Linked DNA regions of Homo sapiens. The protein of the gene in region 2 purifies or fractionates together with the protein of the main gene of each other region. This does not show direct contact. Each region holds a gene or a part of one and is shown on either strand. Other genes may lie near its edges. The genes, in order: PSMA6, POMP and PSMG2.

Region 1 (7,111 bases), on a different chromosome or scaffold from region 2:
GAGTGCTCCATGTTGAACATATATTTCCTTTCTCTTTTTTTTTTTTTTTTTTGAGATGGAGTCTGACCCTGTCGCCCAGGCTGGAGTGCAGTGGCACAATCTTGGCTCACTGCAACCTCCGCCTCCCAGGCTCAAGCAATTCTCCTGCCTCAGCCTCCCAAGCAGCTGGGATTACAGGCGTCCACCACCACATCTGGCTAATTTTTGTATTTTTAGTAGAGATGGGGTTTCACCATGTTGGCCAGGCTGGTCTCAAACTCCTGACCTCAAGTGATCTGTCCACTTTGGCCTCCCAAAGTGCTGGGATTACAGGTGTGAGCCACCATGTGTGGCCCTGAACATGTATTTTCTAAATGATGTTTGCCTCGAAAGGAAGCAATTGTTTGGCAACCTTGTTAATGTGACCTATTACTACTAGACTTCTAAAAAGTGAAATTTGTCAAAAGGACATTTTTTAGTGCAACTGAAGGCAATATCAAGCAGTTTAAATAGTTGTTGATGCTTATGCTATGTACTGTAATTATTTACATATATTTACTATCACAGAATTTATAAATGATACAAAGTTTTTTGAAGACAAGATTTTTGATTCCTTACCAATTTAAAAAATAACAAATACAATTTTAAAGGTGGCAGGAAGGTCTCCAAACAGAAAAGAAAACAAGAACTAATTGTAGGTTCCTTAGAGAGATTTTAAGATTATTCTTGCTGAAATTTTTACTTAAAAAAAAAAAAGGCACCTTTTTCAAAAGCAACTTGATCCCTGCCCCCACCCCTCACCCCTACCCCAACCCAAGTTACAAGACTTCTTCCTACGGGAAGAAAAGCTAGGATAGATTCGCTTTTGGTGTTGTCGGTTGTTTTTTTAACAGATGAGGTCTCACTATGTTACCCAGGCTAGAGTGCAGTGGCTATTCACAGGCACTATCATTGCGCACTACAGCTTTCAACTCCAAGGCTCAAGCCATCCTCTTGCCTCAGCCTCCTGAGGAGCTGAGACTACAGATGCATGCCACAGCACCCAGCTGTTTTTTTTTTTTTAAAGTCCTATGAATTTTTCTGAATCTGTCATGTTTATATGACTTATCTGTGGGCAACCAAAAGAACAAATTAGGAAAAAAAAGAACAAACGAAAAACCTCTTCAAGGTCTAGTTAAGCTTAGTTTACCACTCCCGTACCCCACACCACAACCAAGACCATGTGTCTTTATGGTTGTGATCTAAGAATAGATACACATAATAGTTAAAATGCCTCCCAGTAGTTCCTTGTATCTGTCGATTTAACTGCAGTATTTTCATTAAAGATAAGAGCATCCTGGTCCATGGTATATCAACTGCCTCACAGGGCTGCTGGGAGGATTAAATGAGCTGATTATACGAAGCACTCAGTATGGATTTGAATCATGGAAGCTATAAGGCTGATGTGTGGGAGTTAGTCACTTAGTGAGTAAGAACACACACACACACACACACACACACACACACACACATCCAGCAACTGCAAGTCAATTAGCTGTATTCAAAATTTGGGCTTTCCAAAGATCTCTAGATAAGGGTCTGACATATATCAGTAACTCATATTGCTCCTCAAAGTTCTACTTAAATAACCACTAAATAACCAAAGTTCTATCTGAAAAACTTGCAAACTACTACTTTGGGAATTGAATTTGTATTGGCCTTAAACTAAAAAAAAGAAAACACTTATGCTAATTTTTTTCCTTACATAAGGAAGGTAACTTTATGTCATCTCTGGTGTTAGATATAAAATCACTCTGAAATAAGGAGAAAAGCTTTCATATCTGACTCTTAAATAGAGTCCAAAGTTTTAAAAACAGATCTCAGGTGCTGGGGAAAAAAACAAACACACAAACAAAAACTATAATGACAGTTAAAGAAAAAAGATTTCCCCCACAAGTTATAGGACACATGGACTCACACGCCTCCACCTTTCTAGTCTGCATGTGGCCCACAATATCACTCACCTGAATTTAGGATTTTCAACTGTCACTACTCCAACTTCTATTTCTGAAGGTTTGAAATCAATTGATAGAACAGTAGACAGGCATGTAATTGCAGTCTGAAAAAAAGTATTTAATGTTAAAATATAGTATTTTTTAGAGATTCCAAGGTTTTCTCATTCCTAGCTTATTCAAATCATGAGTCAATCAGGAGCTCCATGTTTCAATGAGGTAGTTCAATGTTACTAACAGACTGCTTAACTCTAATGTATTGCCTCCCAATGATGAGAAATTTTTTTCTACCAAGTCAAATAATAAAGGGGTCCATTAATTAAAATAGGATGATTTATACAAAAAGGTTTATTGGCTTCATGACCCAGGCACTACACTTCACTTAGCACTTGGGGTGAAATGGGAAAAGGATAAAGATGAATGATACTCTCTGCATCTTCAAGGAATTTACAGTAAAAACGATTTAAGAATGTTTTAAGTGTTGTTTGTTTGTTTTGTTTCTGTTTTTTGAGGCAGAGTCTCACTCTGTCGCTCAGTCTGGAGTGCAGTGGCGCCAGCCTGGCTCACTGCAACCTCAGGCTCGTGGATTCAAGCGAGTCTCCTGACTCAGTCTCCTGAGTAGCTGGAATTACAGGCGCCTGCCACCATGCCCGGCTAATTTTTGTATTTTTCATAGAGACAGGGTTTCGCCATGTTGGCCAGGATGGTCTCAAACTCCTGACCTCAGGTGATCTGTCTGCCTCCCAAAGTGCTGGGATTACAGGTGTGAGCCACCTTAAGTGTTTTTTTACCGGATGTGGTTATTTATGTAATTAATTATGAATTGCAATAAAAGAAACCTTTAAGAAATATTTAGACAGGGCCCAGTACTTCCTGAACATGAACTAGCTTTTTATCTCCTTTAAGCATACTTCCAAACCAAACGTAAAAGCATTAGATGGTAATTTTTTTTTGGTCACTTATCAGAAGCATGTTGTTAGCATCTTCAGAATGGCTTTAATTCCAGACTTACACCCAAAATCTACTAAAATTTTTGTTTTTAATTTCTTGGCAGTAAATAGGACTGGCCTCGAACACCTAGACTCAAGCAGTCCTCCAGCTTCAGCCTCTCAAGTAGCTGGGACTACAGGTGTGTGCCACCATGCCCAGCTGGTTCCTATTTTTATTTATATTTTCCTATTATATGCGTTTTGTTGAAAGCCACCTCAAATACATTACGAAATAAGGAATTAAGTGAATAAAAGCAACTCAAATTTTCCTATGTCAGCTGTATGATATCAATTTCATTATTAAGTTGACAACTTGAATCCTGGGATGTAATTCAGGAATAGCTTTGTATAGAAATTATACAAAGATCCTCACTGTTCTATATAGCATAAAAAAAGTCAGCTCCTTTTGGTTGACTTACTTCCACTGTCTGTTCAAATGTCCAATCAAATTTCTTCTTCACTTTTTTTTCAAGGAAGCTGGTTGACTCAGTTTGTTTAACTCCCGCTGCAGTGGCTTTAAACCCACAGTAGTAACCTGCAGGATCACACTTATATACCTGAGGGCCTTGCTCTTCATCTATACCAATTAAAATCATACCTAAAAAGAGAAAAGACCCTAATTAAATGTTTTAGCTTTATACAATGACATCTCCTCTTTCTTGGTGGTGTCACATAGCTGCTGCTAATCATGACTTTGGCCATCAATTTTAGGATATGTATTTTCCTTTAAGAAAACTGATAAAATACAGGTTATCACCACAGGTAAATTAGGTAACAGGTAAATTCCCATTTCACAAAAGGATTTATCACAGATTAAAAAAAATAGTTTGAATAATTACAAATACAATTTAAAAATAGTGTTTCCAATCCTTGCTGTTATCCAAGCATGTTTATTTGAACCCTAATCCTTCAAGATGTTGCCTGGTCAAATAAACTTCAAAAACACTTTTTTTTTTTTTTTTTTTTTTTTTTGAGACAGACTCTCGCTCTGTCTCCCAGGCTGGAGTGCAGTGGCACGATCTCGGCTCACTGCAAGCTCCTCCTCCCGGGTTCACGCCATTCTCCTGCCTCAGCCTCCCGAGTAGCTGGGACTACAGGTGCCCACCACCACGCCCAGCTAATTTTTTGTGTTTTTAGTAGAGACCGGGTTTCGCCGTGTTAGCCAGGACTGGTCTTGATCTCCTGACCTTGTGATCCACCTGCCTCGTCCTCCCAAAGTGCTGGGATTACAGGCGTGAGCCACTGCATCTGGCCAACCTTTTTTTTTTTTTTTTTTTTTAGGAGACGAGGACTCGCTGTTGCCCAGGGTGGTCTTGAACTCCTGGGTTCAAGTGATCCTCCTGCCTCGGCCTCCCAAAGTGCTGGGATTATAAGTGTGCACCACTGTGCCTGGCCCAAAAACACTTTCATATACCTTTTCTGGAAACAGATAATAAATAATAGCATATTAAATGCTGTGAAATATTCTGTTGTAGATTGACCTATTTAACTTTAACTCAGTAGTTCTTCTGTTTGTTTGACCAAGAAATACTTTTTTTTTAAAATAGAAATACCTATTAAGGTTCCAGGGAACAGTGTATGGGACACACTTTGGGAATGCTGGCACAAACTGAAATACACTTACAGGCTACCTGCTCACCTTTACACTGCCCATCTTCATTACTGTTGGTATATACTCCTCTAGTAAGTCACACAAACCAAGCTCTAAATTCTATACATGTAACTTTGTTACTACAATTCTAATGTTACCATATTATAGGAATACAATTAAAATAAACACCATCATTAAATTTCTTTCTACTCAGTAGAACAGGTAACAAAGTACTTAATGGTTTGACTGCTTTCTTATATTTGATATATACAAAATATAAGGGCAACACAAAAAAGTACCCACTTACTGCTTGGGGAAACAACAAATACTTCTTTCCTTCAAGGTCTTGCAAGATGAATATGATTTAAGTAATTTTTAAGTGAGAAGTCAAGAGGGTCAGATGCTAAACAGAAATCATTACACTGACTGCTTTAATGCTCATAAATGAATGACACAATGTCAGAAACAAACATGCACTGAATTTTTCAGGCTAATTTATTACATCACATCTAAAAATCAGTAAATCTCATCCCTCTCCCAATACAATTTTACTTGTTTTCAAAAATAGAAATTTATTCTAAAAATGTGAATTACACACCTGTGTGTGACCCTAATTCTTTAGGGTGGTCAAAACAAACAGCTACATTATTAAGATGCCTGATGCAGGTATTTCTATGGAATTAGTAATCTCGAATTGCAGTAGAACCTCATTACAACATCCTAATAATGAGGACTTGCATCTTTCAAATCACATACACCAAATGGAAATACTTTGATAAAAAGTCTAACAGCATCTAAAGCTTAAAGATAATGCCCGACATACTGTTGTGAAACCTATCCTTTAGTTCTGATTTATTATAAAGATTTTCCCACTCTATGTATTTTCCAAACCACATGTTCAGAACTCAAGTGTTATTTAAATAATTCTGTATACATGTTCTGTAAAAAGTTTCAATTCATCAATTATTTGGGAGACCTCTTAGCATACTTACAACAACCAAGAGGCCTCATTTCAGCATTCTGTGTGTAGACCTGAGAAATATCGGCAATTCTTTTACACAGCATGTCCACAGGAATCTCATAGCCATACTTGTATTTCCAGTTAGCTGCCTCATAGCGTGCCCTCTGTACCTGGGATCTGCTGTCAGCTTATAGCATAAAAAACAAAGATTTACCTGGTTAGAAGGAAAGAACAAACCTGAAAGCCAGGCAATTTAGCCAGGCAATTTTCCCACCATATAGACATACATGAGTTAAAGAGAAAGGGTCCGCTACGGCTTTTTCTCCCCCAATGAATACTAAATAACTCATCAACAAGTATATGAAAAAAATTTAAAAACATGAAGCTCTCTACACAGTACTCCCCTTTTATACTGAGCCTTTCATCAGCAGTCAAAATAGTTTCTGCAAGTATCCAGTAACTCCCAAAAGAAAAAGCATTAAGGAGGCAGGGCATGGTGGCTCAACACTTTGGGAGGCCAAGAGAGGCGGATCACTTGAGGCCAGGAGTTTGAGACCAGCCTGGCCAACATGGCTAAATCCTGTCTCTACTAAAAACATAAAATTAGCTGCACGTGGTGGTGCATGCCTGTAGTCCCAGCTACCTGGGAGGTTGAGGCACGAGAATTGCTTGAACCCAGGAGGCGGAGCAGCCTGGGCGACAAAGTGAGACTCTGTCTCCAAAAAAAAAAAAAAAGGCCTTGAGAGAGAATAATCTTTCTTAATCTTTGTTTTTAGGCTTAAATTAGTTTTTCATTTTTTTTTTAGAGATGGGGTCTTGGACTGGCACCCAGTGAGCCATCATAGCTCACTGCAGCCTTGAATTCCTTGGCTCAAGTGATCCTCCTACCTCAGCCTCCTGAGTAGCTAGGACTACAGGTATGTGCCACCATACCAGCTAATTTTTTTTTCTTCTTCAAATGGAGTCTTGCTCCGTTGCCCAGGCTGCAGTACAGTCTCATGATCTTGGCTCACTGCAACCTCTACCTCCCGGGTTCAAGCGATTCTCCTGCCTCAGCCTCCTGAGTAGTTGGGATTACAGGCACCTGCCACCATAGCTGGTTAAGTTTTTTGGTATTTTTGTTTTTATTTTTTGAGACAGTCTCACTCTGTTGCCGAGGCTGGAGTGCAGTAGTACAATCTCAGCTCACTGCAACCTCTGCCTCCCGAGTTCAAGCAATTCTCCTGCCTCACCCTCCTGAATAGCTGGGATTACAGGTGTGCGTGCGCCACCATGCCCAGCTAATTTTTGTATTTTTGGTAGAGATGGAGTTTCACCACGCTGGCCAGGCTGATCTCGAATTCCTGACCTCAAGTGATCCGCCTGCCTCGGCCTCCCAAAGTGCTGGGATTACAGGTGTGAGCCACCGTGACCAGCCCCTAGCTAATTTCTAAATTTGTTATAGAGATGGAGTCTCACCATGTTGCCCAGGCTGGTTTTGAACTCTTGGTCTTAAACAATCCTCTCACCTTGGCCTCCCAAAGTGCTGGGATTACAACTGTGAGCCACTGTGCCCAACCTAAAATAATTTTCATAATAATTCTCACTCACTTCTAACCGA
Region 2 (7,905 bases):
CAGGAAAAAATAACATGAATAAAGGCAAGAAAATATAAATGAACAAGCTTCAGGTAGTTTGAGATAACTGGCTAAATATGTTTCCAGTGAGGCAGAAGTAAAGGCTGATGAAATACAAAAGTGAAACATCTTATGTGCAAAGAAATATGGGTTTTATTCCAAAACTGAAAGCCTCTGAAAGGTTATGGCATGATTGAATTTGTTTCCCCTGGAAAAACCACTCCCTTAGGTTAGAGTGTATAACACAGAATAAAAAAGTTGAAGACAGCATCCTCGGGAATACTATTCCCTGAGGACAAGGAAAAACAACACAGAAATGGGATTAACAGACAGGATGGATAAAGAAAAGTAGAGAAGCTGGGAAAAAAAGGGAATTTCAGAAAGTGTTTGGTTTCTATATGAAGATAGCGCTACCTATAAAAACTATGTGTATCTAATCAGGATAGTATAAAACAAAGTAAAAAAGACAGTGCATTTGGTATTGGTGTATGATTACCCTACGCTACTGTGAAATGCGCAATCACCAGATACTTATTAGCCATCTACTATGTGTCAGGTACTCTGCTAGATACTGAAGCTACATGTCTACCTCCCGGGGCTTCAGCTTATGAAAATATATTAAACAAGCAAAGAAAACATGGTGTTACAACAGGCAAAGCATGAGATGCTAACTTTATTTATTTACTTTTTGAGATAGGGTCTTGCTCTGTCATCCAGGCTGGAATGCAGTCGAGCAATCACGGCTAACTGCAGCCTAGACTTCCCAGGTTCAAGCGATCCTCCTGCCTCAGCCTCTCAAGTAGCTGGGACTACAGGCGTGCAACATCACGCCTGGCTAATTTTTTTATTTTTTGTGGAGATAAGGTCTCAACTATGATGGCCAGGCTAGTCTCAAACTCCTGTGCTCAAGCCATCTTCCTGCCTCAGCACCCCCCAAAGTGCTGGAATTACAGGTGTCAGCCAGCATGCACGGCCCAAGACGCTAACTTTAAATCACTTGTTGCTCAAGTCCAATATCCCTGTGATTCTGCAGAAAAATGTAAAACAGCTACAGGTAGTTTTAGTATCAAATTTTATATTATTCTAGAAGAAAATATTCTGAGAAGTCAGCTTTTTAACTGATTTCTTAATTCGTTTGTATATTTGATTTAGTCAGGTATTTTATCCTTTGCAGGGTTTCTTCACTATACCACTCCAGCCCAGCCTATCACACATGGATAACTTCAACAGCATTCTACTGGGTCTTGCTGCCTTTAGACTCACCCATTTTCCAGTTCTGTATATCAAGGTTTTCCTCAAGCATGAAACCTCCTCCAACAAAACTGCTATAAAATCTTTGTTGGTTCATCGATGTCTGAAGCACAAAGTTCAGACTCCTTAGCCTGGACCTAAAGAACCTGCATAATAGGTTCCAACTCCCCTACATACAAGAAGTCATGGTGGACGAGGAAAAGAATCTGGACTCTAGTGTGGACTGTCACTAACCTACTTTGTGACTGCCAGCAAAGCACCAACCTCTCTGGCCTTGTTTACTCATCTGCACCAAGGAGCTGAACTCCTACCAGGACTACAAATGCTCCTTGACTTATGATGGGGTTACTTCCTAATAAATCCATCTTAAATTGAAAATGTCAAAAGTCAAAAACACATTTAACACACCTAACCTACTAAACATCAGGCCTTAGCCTAGCCTACCTTAAATGTGCTCAGAACACTTACACTAGCCTACAGTCGGCCAAAATCATCTAATACAAAGCCTACTTTATTAAAAAGTACTGGGTATCTCATGTAATTTATTGAATACTGTACTGAAAGTGAAAAACAGAATGGCTGTATTGGTACTCAAATATGGCCTCTACTGACTGTGTATGGATTTCACACCATCATAAAGTCAGAAGATTGTTGAACCACCAGAAGTTGGGGACCTTCAGCAGAGATGTGTGATTGTTGCTTTCCAAATGTATCTTCTATTACTTCCCTATATGAACATTCTCCTCCTTCTGGACTGCTTTATTGTAAAGTAACAAGGTTTCAACGCACAAAGAAAAGGTGAATTCTGACTTCTGGATTCTGTTATTGTCATTTTTCCCAATTTCCTTCTGTAAAATATCAAGATTAGTACTTGCTGTTTCTAATAAAGGAAGGAGCCGAGAAAGGCAAATCTACGAAAACCTAACTACTAGTTACATTTGAGAGTGCCTAAAAAACTTTTTAGATAACGATTAGCAGTATTTACCAATAGAAACTTTCTAGATTTGGATGGATGGCCTACCAGCAGTACCGATATCAGAGTCTGTGGCAATGGTGACTCAGTGTTCTTCTCAAATACCACAACTTCTAAGTTAAAAAGAAAGAGAAAGTGGTGGGGAGGAGAAGGAGGGAGGAGATATACTAACAATACTGGCAAACAGGGAATAGCAACTGTCTGATTTTTTCCCCTCTAACATCTAGCACACTACAAGCTCTCAAAAAAGTTTGTAGAGCAAAGCTGCGTTACACAAATGCGACCTATAGTTGTGGGCTGTTTACTAGGCAGTTACAAGGGCGGGGGCTGGGGGAGATGAGGAGTCTGAGAGCTCTGGGCTCCCAGAGGTTACCCGTCAAGGAAAGGGTCGCCAGCGCCACCCCACAGAACGTTGCACTTTCACGGCTGCCTTTTCCACTTCTGCGCCAAGTAAGGGGAGGAGGTCTGGGCCTGCTGGGGTCTAAGGGATGGAAGGGCGCAAACCGAGCTAAGAGGAGCAGGATGAAGCCGAAGCACTGCTAGTGGGACTAGTGCCGGGCCCCGGCGACAGTCACGACCCACCCAAACCCCGTGACTCGACAGATTATGGCGCCTGAGGCCGGCCTCAGCCCCACGCTGCCGCCGCCGCCGCCACCGGGGACGGGTTGGGAGGCGACTGCCTGTTTCTGCCGAGCCACGGTCCCGAGCCCGCGTGGAACTCCAGCCGCCCGGGTACCCACTCACCATCTTCCGCAGCTCTGCGAACAGCCTCTCTGCCCCGTTACCGTCAGTCGACCCCGCCGCTCACTTCCGTTTCCGAGGGCTGGCCCCCACATCCGCCGGAAGTGCGTCCGTCCTGGCGAGGAAGGAAGGAGGGCGCGGGACGCCGGAGGGAGCTGCGCGGGGCCGAGGCTCCCACGCTTGCAATCCCAAGGGACCCAGGGCCAAGGGCGCAGTAAGGGTGTGGGCTGGGAGGAGGGAGGGGTCGGGACGAGACGTGCCTGAGGGGAGGGAAGACACGGACTCCGGTTTATTAATAAACATCTACGGTTTGTACGGCATTTTAAGATGTGCAGTGTGCTTTTGTAGGTACATCGCCTTATTTAACACAAAACCTCTCTGAGGTAGCTATTACATTTCACAGAAGGGTAAACGAGGCGTAGGTGGTTTGAGTGATTTGCTTGAGATCGTTCGGCTAATAAAGCAAAATTGGGACACAAGGCTTTTGTCATTTTTAAAAAACATAATATTGAAGGCCTGGTATGTTCCGAACCCTGTGCTGAGGCTAGGAATACAAAAAAGGACCAGGCCGGTGTGGCCTCTGGGCTAGAGGAGCAGGGGTACTCCGGAGGCTAGAGGGGAGAGAGGGGACGATAGTGACTACAAATTAAGTAAATGTGATCATGACCGACATATGTTGGGCCCTTTGAATTGCGTTATCAACACAGTTCTAAGTGCTTACATCCTTTATCTCTTTTAATCTTTTCAATAACCTTACAAGTACAATTTACAGGTGAAGAAACCGAGACATGAAGGGCTTAAATAAATATGCCTAAGGACATATTTATGAGTCTAGAATCCATGCTCATTACACTATTCTGTATTGTTCAAATATAATGTAATAAAACGGCCTTATAGTCTGCTGCCACAGGATGGAGACATCTTAGGGAATCTTTGGACTGACAGCTAAAAGATAAGAGCGAACTAGTTTGGGGTAGTAGGATATTTAAAACAACATTACGTGCAGATCTGCTTGTGCAAAAACGGAACTGGAAAGAAGGCCTAAGTCTGGCTAAAGTTCAGAAAGTAAAGTGGAGAGTACTGTGAGATGAGGTTGTAAGTAGATGGAGGCAAGTGGTTTTTGTTGTTGTTTTTGTTTGTTTGTTCTAAATAATGATAGGGTTTAGCTATGTTGCCCAGGTCTGCGTTGAACTCCTGGGCTCAAGCGATTCTCCTGCTGCAGCCGGCTGAGTAATGGGAACTACAGGCGTGCATCATGGGACCTAGCTACAGGTTTTTTATGCAGCCTTTGTAGGCAAGATTAAGGATGAGGCTTTGTCTTTAAAAAGCCATCGAAGGATTTGAGAGAGGAAAATGATAAGGCCATATATGTTATGTATATCCACTGCCATGGTCATACAACTTTGAAGTTCCAGATGTTATGTGTTCTGCCATGCTGTCCTTTAGGTGTCTTCTGGTCCTTCACAATAGCCATGTTTAATCCTGAGATTTGAGTTGGAGTGTTTCGTTTGCATCTTTTTTTCTTTCCGTCAATTCCACCTGAGAAATTGTAAAACTGCGAATCTTTTCTTAAAAATCATTTTAACATTTGCTGATTGCTCACAGTTCAATGAATATGTATTGAACATTTGCTTGGTACTAGATTCTGGAGCTATAAAGAAGAAAAGAGCAATTCCCTGTACCTGAGATGCTTATATATTTTCCTGGGGAAATAGACATGCAAACAGATATTTAAAATGCAGCATGGGCTGGGTGCAGTGGCTCACACCTGTAATCCTAGCACTTTGGGAGCTGGAAGCAGGCAGATCACTTGAGGTCAGTAGTTCGACACCAGCCTGGCCAACATGGCAAAAGCCCATCTCTACTAAAGATACAAAAAAAAAAATTAGCCAGACATCATGGTGCATGCTTGTAGTCCCAGCTATTCAGGAGACTGAGGCACGAGAGTCGCTTGAACCTGAGAGGTAGAGGTTGCAGTGAGCAGAGATCACGCCACTGCACTCCAGCCTAGGTGACACAGCAAGACTCCATCTCAAATAATAATAATAAAATAATAAAATGCAGTGTGATAAATGCTTGATAGAGAAAGGGGCTAAACCAGAAAGTTGTTGGGAGCAGGAGAAAACAGCATTCACGGAAGAGGAACATGTAAAGGCAAGAGATCTGTGAAAAGTCGTGTTGTTATCTGAGTAATGGAAAACATTTCCCTGTGGCTGGAGCTCTGGGTGAGCAGGTGAAGCAAAATGAGATGAGGTTGGAGGGACAGGTTGGGGCCAAAACGAAGGGCCTTCTATGGTATGCTGAGGTTTAGGGCTTTTTCTTATAGACAACAGGAGATAATGGAGGTCTTTTCACAAACATTTGGCATTAAAAAAAAAAAATTCTGGTGGCAGCATGAAGGACAGACTAAGATTGGGAGAAAGTAGGAACCAGGATACCATTTAAGCCACTAATGGTACGCTAAGGTAGTGTCACATACTGGAAAGGCTTTGAAAGGAAGGAAAAAGTAGGAGTGAACCTAAGAAATACCAGAATTCAAAAGACAGCCAGAAGAAGGGGAGCCTGCTTTAAAGGCTATGCCATCTTCGAATCAAAAGGGCAAGGAAGTATTGAGAGGTTAGAAAGTAGTTCAAAAGTAGCTAAAAAGGGATCATAAAGCCCTGAAAATAGGCTTTTGGTGACCAGTGTGAAGAGTTGTTTTAGTGGCTCAGCAAGGAGAAAATTCCCTTTATTTTGAGTCTTACACTCAAGTTTATGTCCTATTTTAAATGGTTTGTTACAGTATTAACTAATACGGGGTACTTTTGAGTATGCTAAATAAGAAGTAAATTAGATTTGATGCTGGAATGATTTAATTATGTTTACTTAAGCTTTATGTTAAATAGCTTAGAGGATAGAACATTAGTAATGATAGCTAACATTTGTTACATGTCAGGCCAGGGTTTAGTTTTTTGCATATATTGTTTCAATTAATCCTGTGAGGTAGATACTATCATTATGCACATTTCACAGAAAATGCTGAGGCATTGTATGAGAACAAGCACCCTATTTTGTTTTACTTTTTGTAGTCGTCTTTGACTTTACTCTTAAGTCAGTCTGGTGACATAGCTAGGTAAACTGAGGACAAATTCAGCTTCATTCACATCTGGCAAGAACCCTCCTCCCTCCTCCTAGCTCTTTCCCCATTTGTTACCTCATCTGTCTCCTGTTTGGGTACTATTCTTGTACTTCATCTTGTCAGCTGAATTTGGGTCTTCTGACCTAAATTTTAGTGCTCCCTAACGATCTAAAATTACACTTAACTTTGCTCTTTTCTGTTATTTGCCTAAGCTTGGCCCTGGGCACCCAAACCCTATTACCCAGCCTGCTTGGTTAGCCCCCTCTTAAAAGCTGCTTTGTCTCCACAGCACAGTGCCTTGCATACTTTAGGCAGGTACTCAGCAGGATTTTGAAATCTAGTATGTAGTGAGTGTCTCTTTAGAACTTAAGAAGCTGGAAGAGGCATAGAGAAGAGAGGTCTGAAAATGTCTCAGAGCTAAGGAAGATACGATGTTGAGATAAGGGAATGACCAGTGATGTCAGATAATGATTATGGGAAGATCGATGGGGTTTGGCAAATGGGATGTCATTTGCATAATCTTCTGGTGAGCAGTTTAACTATAAACCAGATTGTTAGGAATGAAGAATTTATAAGAAGAAAATGGAGGCAGCCAAATTTTATAGATCATTCTTTTCAGAAAGTTGTCCATTTCAAAAAATAGAATCAGGATTTTGGTTTGAATGAAAGTTGGGTTTTGTTTTTGTTTCATGTGCATGATTGGACAGACCAAAGTTTGTTAGGCAGATGTTAGAAAGAGTTGGTGAAGGGGCAAGAGTGAAGACAGCAGGGAAGAGAAGCAGCAAGAAGGAATGATTGAGATAATGATCTCTCAGATGCCCAGAACAGTTGTGAGAGGGAATCAAGGACAAAGATGCAGCTGTTAGAAAAAGGAGGCAGGCCCAGGCGCAGAGACTCACTCCTGTAATCCTAGCACTTTGGGAGGCTGAGGCAGGTGGATCACCTGAGGTCAGGAGTTCAAGACCAGCCTGGCCAACATGGTGAAACCCTGTGTCTACTAAAAATATAAAATTAGCTGGGCATGGTGGTGCACGCCTGTAATCCCAGCTACTCGGGAGGCTGAGGCAGGAGAATCACTTGAACCCAGGAGGTGGAGGTTGCAGTGAGCCGAGATGGTGCCACTGCACTCCAGCCTGGGCGACAGAGCGAGACCCTGTCTCAAAAAAAAAAAAAAAAAAAAAAAAAATTATGCTTCCCTACAAGGCTAGGGGTGGAGGAGTAGTTCATATAAGGGTAGTGGTATTATACAAATCTTAAACAATAAGAAAATTACTAGGTTTTCGAGGGCCTGAAAAGAATCTATAAGTTATAAAAAATATATCCAGATCTTCTTTAAATGATTTAAATTCTTACAGTGTTGGGAAGGGTTCAATATGCATAATTTAGGATAAGTCATATTTACAAATCTTCTCTGCAAGCCCCTTCCTATGTGTTAAGAGATGGAGAAATATCAAGTTCATTTGACCCTTTAACCCTAAGAGATGAGTGTTTCATATTTTGAAATATTTTACTAGCTATAATTTCAGATGCAGCTGCTTTTAAAAGAGTGTCTGCTGATTATGAAAAGCTGGGTTTTGAGAATAAGTACTAGAGTAGACTATTTGGAATCCAGGAGTTTTATTTTACTACTTTACATCTGCATTGCATCAGACATGGCGCAAGTTAGCATTCCATTTTTCATGCTTTTGTAGCCCTATTTTAGGTCTGTCTGTGCTCAGAATTGGTTTATATTTTCACCATAATCTATTCATTTGCCTGCACAGCATACAGCTGATAGATTATATGCAATGAGTTTTAAATTCTACACCTATTTCTTTTACTA
Region 3 (6,310 bases), on a different chromosome or scaffold from region 2:
GGTCTCGAACTCCTGACCTCAGGTGATTTGCCTGCCTGGGCCTCCCAAAGTGCTGGGATTACAGGCATGAGCCACCACGCCCGGCCCCAAGATGTAGCATTTAGATCATTTATTTTTTATTTTTTATTCTTTTGGGGATGGAGTCTCACTCTGTCACCCAGGCTGGAGTGCAGTGGCACAGTCTTGGCTCACTGTAACTGTTTTAGATGATGTAGATCATAACTTTTATCACTTAGACACCTATAAAACCAGGATGAAAAAATACCAACAAGCCAAGAGTTACCTTTCAAAATGAGCTAATTTCCAGGACTTTCACAAAAGACATTACAGGCTTCATGGCAGAAGGGAGGAAAGCTGTGGGAAATTTTTGCAATGGGCTTGCCTAAGTGTTTCTGTCTTTTTATATTGTCTCCTAAGTAAGTAAGTAAGTAGCAAATCAGAGCAATATTTTTTACTTAAGTCTGCTGAAACTTGTGTTTTGCCTGTGCAGCAGAATATATGGAGACCAAGAGAATTTTAGCTAAAGAACCGATGTTTGCTTTAGAGTTTTTAAAAAGTTAACTATATGATTATTTCTAGTACTCCCTTCCGGTACCTACTTACACCTTCCATGCAAAAAAGTGTTCAAAATAAAATAAAGAGCCTTAACTGGGAAGAAATGGAAAAAAGCCGGTGCATTCCTGAAATAGATGATTCCGAGTTTTGTATCCGCATTCCGGGAGGAGGTATCACAAAAACACTCTATGATGAAAGGTGAGTTTGTTTGCCTGTTCATTTGTTTCCCACTTTACTTAAAAATGAAATTAATGCAGTGAGCTGAGATCGTGCCACTGCACTCTAGCCTGGGTGACAGAGCAAGACTCTGTCTCAAACAAAAAACAACAACAAAAAAAACAAAATTAAGTCAGAGAATGTATTGGATTACTTACTGAAACTTTGAGAATATATTGCTAGGCCGGGCACGGTGGCTCACACTTGTAATCCTAGCGCTTTGGAAGGCCGAGGCAGGCGGATCACGAGGTCAGATCAATCAAGACCAGGAGATCGAGACCATCCTGGCTAATATGGTAAAAACCTGTATCTACTAAAAATACAAAAAATTAGCTGGGCGTGATGGTGGGCACCTGTAGTCCCAGCTACTCGGGAGGCCGAGGCAGGAGAATGGTGTGAACCCGAGAGGCGGAGTTTGCAGTGAGCCGAGATCGCGCCACTGCACTCCAGCCTGGGAGACAGCAAGACTCCGTCTCAAAAAGAAAAAAAGAAAATATATTTACAAAACTGGTACTATTGTAGAGCTCTTGCATTTAGGGGAAAGATTTAAACTTGGTTATAGAAGAACTGGTTTCTCAAAAGCCATATTTAATGCTTTTATTTTGTGTGACTTTTTAGGGATTCTAATACTTATTCTTTGCAACCTCTACACGCGCACTTTTTTTTAATTGTGGTAAAATATACATCGTGCAAAATTTACATTTATCACACATTTTAACTATATTTAAGCGTACAATCAAGTGCCATTAATTCACAGCATCTGCATCCATCAGCACTGTCTACTTCTAGAACTTTGTCGTCATACTAAATTAAAAAATCTGTACCCATAAATAATAACTCCCAACTTTATTTCTGTAAAATTGGTGTTGATGTTCCCATTTTCATTTCTTATTTTAATAATTTGAGTCTTTTCTTTTTTTTCCTAGTCAAGCTAGCTAAAGATTTGTCAGTTTTGTTTTTCTTTGAAGAACCAGTTTTGATTTTGCTGATTATTGTTTTTCTATTCTCTATTATTCTATTATTCTCTATTATTTCTCTCTTACCTAATCTTTATTTTTTTCCGCTAGCTTTGGATTTGATTTGCTTTTTTTTCTCTTTTCCAAGGTGTAAACTTAGGTTATTAATTTAAAAGTTTTTTTCTTTTTTACTGAATGTGTTTACAGCTGTAAATTTTCCTCTTAGTGCTGTTTTCACTGCATGCCCTGGGATTTGACATGTCGTGTTTTCATTTTCACTCATCTCAGTATTTTCTCATTTCCCTTGTGTTTTTGTTCCGTGTTCCTCTCTTGTCCCCCTTGCAAACACCTACCTCCTTTCTAAGAGTCAACTTACCCTTCACCTCCTGTCTGCAATCTTGCCTTTTCCTGTCTTCTAGACAAGGAAGTTGCGTCTGCACTCCCACTGCACTCCACCTCTTCTATACTTTGTTGCACTTACTTTACCAATCAATCCTCCTAAACTTTTGCTTCTGACCAAGACAGAGTAACTGATATCAGACTTGCCCTCCTGCCATAAAAATACTGGAACCTGACAATTTATGAAACAACTGTTTTCCAGACATTGGACTACAGGCAGCACATAGCTGTCATCCCTAAGAGAAGGCAAATTTTAAGTCTACAGTTGCCTGGCTTTCTGCTTGAGATACTTTCTGGACTGCAGCACAGGGAGCGGAACCCAAGCAGAGCTGAGTGGAGGAAATCAGTTAAGACTACAGGGAGGCCGAGGCAACTGGAAATACAGGGCAGAGAATCCGAGGGCAGGGGTGCTGCTCATCAGAGTCCAGGGGTCTGTTTCCTTGGGTCTGTCTTCTTGGGTATAGGGTGAAACTATGAGGACAGGCAAAGAACAGCTTCTGGTTAGCTATAAGCTTGCCCACAAAGTTAGCGGTGATAAACAGAAAGTATTATAAAAGTTAGACCTACTCAGCATCAAACATTCAGGAAATGCGGATTTTACCCTGAAGAAACAATATTTAAAATACTCAGTTGTATCAACCAGAATAAAATAGTTCCAAATAAAAAAGTAATAATAATAGTCATCCTCTGCCTTTCTTTTTAGCAGAAGACCAGAGGGTAATATTGAAATGATTATCCCACACTGTGTGACAAACTAATAAGAGGCGCGATAAGCTGAAGAGCATACCCCTGCGCTTTCCAAGTTAGAGCCTTGAAAATGCAAGCACAGCCTCGGAGCCAGCCTTCTCCAGGCGAGAGCCTTGCCTGAGGCCATCACAGCAGACGCATTTAGGAACTGGAATTTTCTGAGCCATCAGAGCTCATAGTGGTTCCATACAAAGATTGAGAGCCCCTAAGGTGTTTGAGAACCAAGTACTGGGCTAGGGTGAGTGAGGCTAACAGTTTCTACTTTGTAGTTTTTAGAGACAGAAACTAAAGTTAGCCTGGTATCATCTGAGACTTCCGAATGTATATATCAGAGTCTCCTCGGTGCCTTTCCTTCCTTAGAACTCGGCTCACTTTTATTTCTGTAGCTCTCTTCTCTGTCAGTCTCGTGCTTTCAAGTTTTGGCATGGCATTTTTCTCATAGTTCTTGGTTTTAGGGTGTTAGGAGTAATTTTTGCATTTATTGGCAAGCAGGAAACTTTTTGCCTTGGTGTATCTCCATCTCATCACTAGCTTGAGGCGTTTATAGTATGATAGGAGACTATGTTTTGGAGTTAGAGAGACCTAACTAGATATAGTTAGATATAGAGACCTTACTAGATATAGAACTTTGGGCATGTTAACTATGTATTAAATCTTTTTTTCTTCATTTGCGACAGAGTCTTGCTCTGTCTCACGCAGTTCTCCTGCCTCAGCCTCCTGAGTACCTACAGGCACATGCCACCATGCCCAGCTAATTTTTATATTTTTAGTAGAGACGGGGTTTCACCATGTTGGCCAGGCTGGTCTCGAACTCCTGACCTCAAATGATTTGCCCACCTCGGCCTCCCAAAGTGCTGGGATTACAGGCTTGAGCCAGCGCGCCCAGCCTGTATTCAATCTCTTTAAACCTGTTACCTCATAAAAGTAGCTAATACTTCTTTCATATTTACTGTGTGGTCACTGTTTTAAGCATTTTGCCTCCACTACCTCCTTTCAGCCTCACAACAACCTGTGAAGTAGGTTCCATTATCATCCCCCTTTTATAGATGAGGAACACCCCTGGTTAAGTAACTTGCCCAACATATCTGGTAAGTTGAAGAGCTAGAATCTGAATCCTGGTGTCTGTCTTTGTTCCCGTTATTCCAAACTGATTCACTTATAAAATGGAGCTAATTATAGCTTCTTCAGGATTATTACAGGGATTGTCATAAAATTTGCAGATAATGCTTAACACATAATAACCACTCAGCGTTTTCGGAAGAAGTAGGAACTTTTATTTCCTTTAATGATTCCATTCTCTTCCACAGTTTCCCTCACTGCTTTAGATAGTAACTAGGTGTTATTTTCTTTCAGTCTCTGCTGTGGTGCTTCTGAAAATTACTGTCTTCTGAAGTAGGTTTGGGGAGTAGGTCAGAACATACCTTATCTGCTGTAGCCAAGGACAGAAAGGCTGGTTTTTCATGCAGCCATGGGGTGAGGCATGATTGTGCGTGTTCCCCAGTGGGTGTTACAGGGGCCTGCTCTCACAAGTAGAAAACTCTGTGTGGGGCGAAGGGAGATGATAAGTGATCTTATGGTGTGGCGTCTTTTCCTTTCCTAAACCAGGTAGGTTATCGTAGCTGTAAAAACAGACACACTAGAGTCAGCTCTTGTACCCTATGAAAGAATACTGATTCTTATTTTTATTTCTTGTAGCTGTTCTAAAGAAATCCAAATGGCAGTTCTGCTGAAATTTGTTTCAGAAGGGGACAACATCCCAGATGCATTAGGTCTTGTTGAGTATCTTAATGAGTGGCTTCAGATACTCAAACCACTTGTAAGTTCTATTATAGCTTAAGCCTCTTCTTTGTCTGGTTGTATTCATTAACTCGCACTTTATATACTACCTAAGTAGACCAAGTAAGTGAACGTTTGTATTAAATATAGACATATCTTTACATAAAATTTAGTTTAAGCTGAACTTTTGAAAATTAGAGGACAGTTAACCAACCTATTATTTACAGTTTTTTCATTAAAGCTGACTTTCCAAAAAGGAAAATCCTTAGTTCTTCATTGTACTTACTATTCATGTTAGATTAATTATGCCAGACATAGTCTTGCAATAATAAACAAGCCTTCTGTGGAATTCAGGAATTTTTTTAGGGAAGTAAAAAGTATTGCTATGTGAGCAATACTGTAGCTATTGAATATGTATTACAGTTGATATTTTTCTCTATTATGAAATGAGAGCATTACACCCAGGGAAGTGAGTTAGCCTTTAGGCATAACAGAACACTGAGCATAAGGCTGCTTTCTAAGATGGGTAACTAGCTTTTTAATTCATGCTTTTGCCAAGAACAAATTGATACAAATCACATAATGCTGATTTTTTTTTTAATCCCTATTCTTTTTGAATGTGATTTTCCCTAATAAACTTCATCTACAGCCTTTCTGGCATATCTTTATAATTTGGAACTTAAAGAAATTTATCTTCAGTTGACATGAAGACAAAGAAACTTTATTTTTCCTTAACAATAAAACCTGGCTATAAAAGTGCCAACCAAAAGGAACACAAAAGGAGAGTTTTATAATTCACTTTAAAAGGAGATTTGATGGTAAAGTTTAAAGATTAAAATATTTTGTTCTTCAATTACAGAGCGATGACCCCACAGTATCTGCCTCACGGTGGAAAATACCAAGTTCTTGGAGATTACTCTTTGGCAGTGGTCTTCCCCCTGCACTTTTCTGATCTAATTTCTGTTTTATACCTTATACCCAAAACACTTACTACCAACACAGCTGTTAAACATTCTATACAAAAAAATTGTATGATCTGGTATTAGGAAATTACTTTCACAGTAAATATCAAAGAAAAAAGATTAAGGGTCTCTTTGCCATGCTTTTCATCATATGCACCAAATGTAAATTTTGTACAATAAAATTTTATTTCCTAAGTAATTTTGTCTTAAATGTATTTTTTTTAATTTCAGACTCTCTATTAGCTTCCTAGTTTGTCTCTAATAAATCACCACAAACTTAGTGACTTAAAACACACCAGTTTAATTTTTTCATTAACTAATTAATTAATTTTCATTCTGTATTTTAAGTAAAATGAGACGAGGTCTTGCCATGTTGCCCAGGCTGGTCTCAAACTCCTGGGCTCAGGCAATCCTCCTGCCATGTCCTCCCAAAGTGCTGAGATTACAGGCATTACACCACTATGCCCAGCCACAAATTTGCTTTTAAATTCTGACTTCTGAGTTCTAGGAGTCAGAAATCCAACAGTGGGTCTGACGAGACTAAAATCAGGGTGATCGCAGGGCACTGCTCCTGAGGAAGGCCTTAGGGAGAATTTGTGTTCTGCTGTTTCCAGCTTCTAGAGGCTGCCATATTATTTGGCTCATGGGCCCTTCTATCTTCAAAGCCAGCAGCTTAGCATCTTCAAATCTCTCAGTTAT

Evidence for each region.
Region 1: the proteins of POMP (region 2) and PSMA6 purify together in Homo sapiens (affinity purification with western blotting; 4 studies listed by BioGRID and IntAct, with this or other methods). This does not show direct contact.
Region 3: the proteins of POMP (region 2) and PSMG2 purify together in Homo sapiens (co-immunoprecipitation; 8 studies listed by BioGRID and IntAct, with this or other methods). This does not show direct contact.

The regions. Positions count from the first base shown.
Region 1 is NC_000014.9:35,309,327-35,316,437, reverse strand, and holds part of PSMA6 (proteasome subunit alpha type-6), read right to left. Parts: intron 5,699-7,111; coding exon 5,543-5,698; intron 3,558-5,542; coding exon 3,379-3,557; intron 2,078-3,378; coding exon 1,983-2,077; intron 1-1,982. UniProt on the Homo sapiens protein: Component of the 20S core proteasome complex involved in the proteolytic degradation of most intracellular proteins. This complex plays numerous essential roles within the cell by associating with different regulatory particles.
Region 2 is NC_000013.11:28,654,251-28,662,155, reverse strand, and holds the start of POMP (proteasome maturation protein), read right to left. Parts: upstream 3,027-7,905; 5' UTR 2,972-3,026; coding exon 2,969-2,971; intron 1-2,968. UniProt on the Homo sapiens protein: Molecular chaperone essential for the assembly of standard proteasomes and immunoproteasomes. Degraded after completion of proteasome maturation. Mediates the association of 20S preproteasome with the endoplasmic reticulum.
Region 3 is NC_000018.10:12,719,931-12,726,240, forward strand, and holds the end of PSMG2 (proteasome assembly chaperone 2), read left to right. Parts: intron 1-579; coding exon 580-753; intron 754-4,568; coding exon 4,569-4,689; intron 4,690-5,508; coding exon 5,509-5,601; 3' UTR 5,602-5,810; downstream 5,811-6,310. UniProt on the Homo sapiens protein: Chaperone protein which promotes assembly of the 20S proteasome as part of a heterodimer with PSMG1.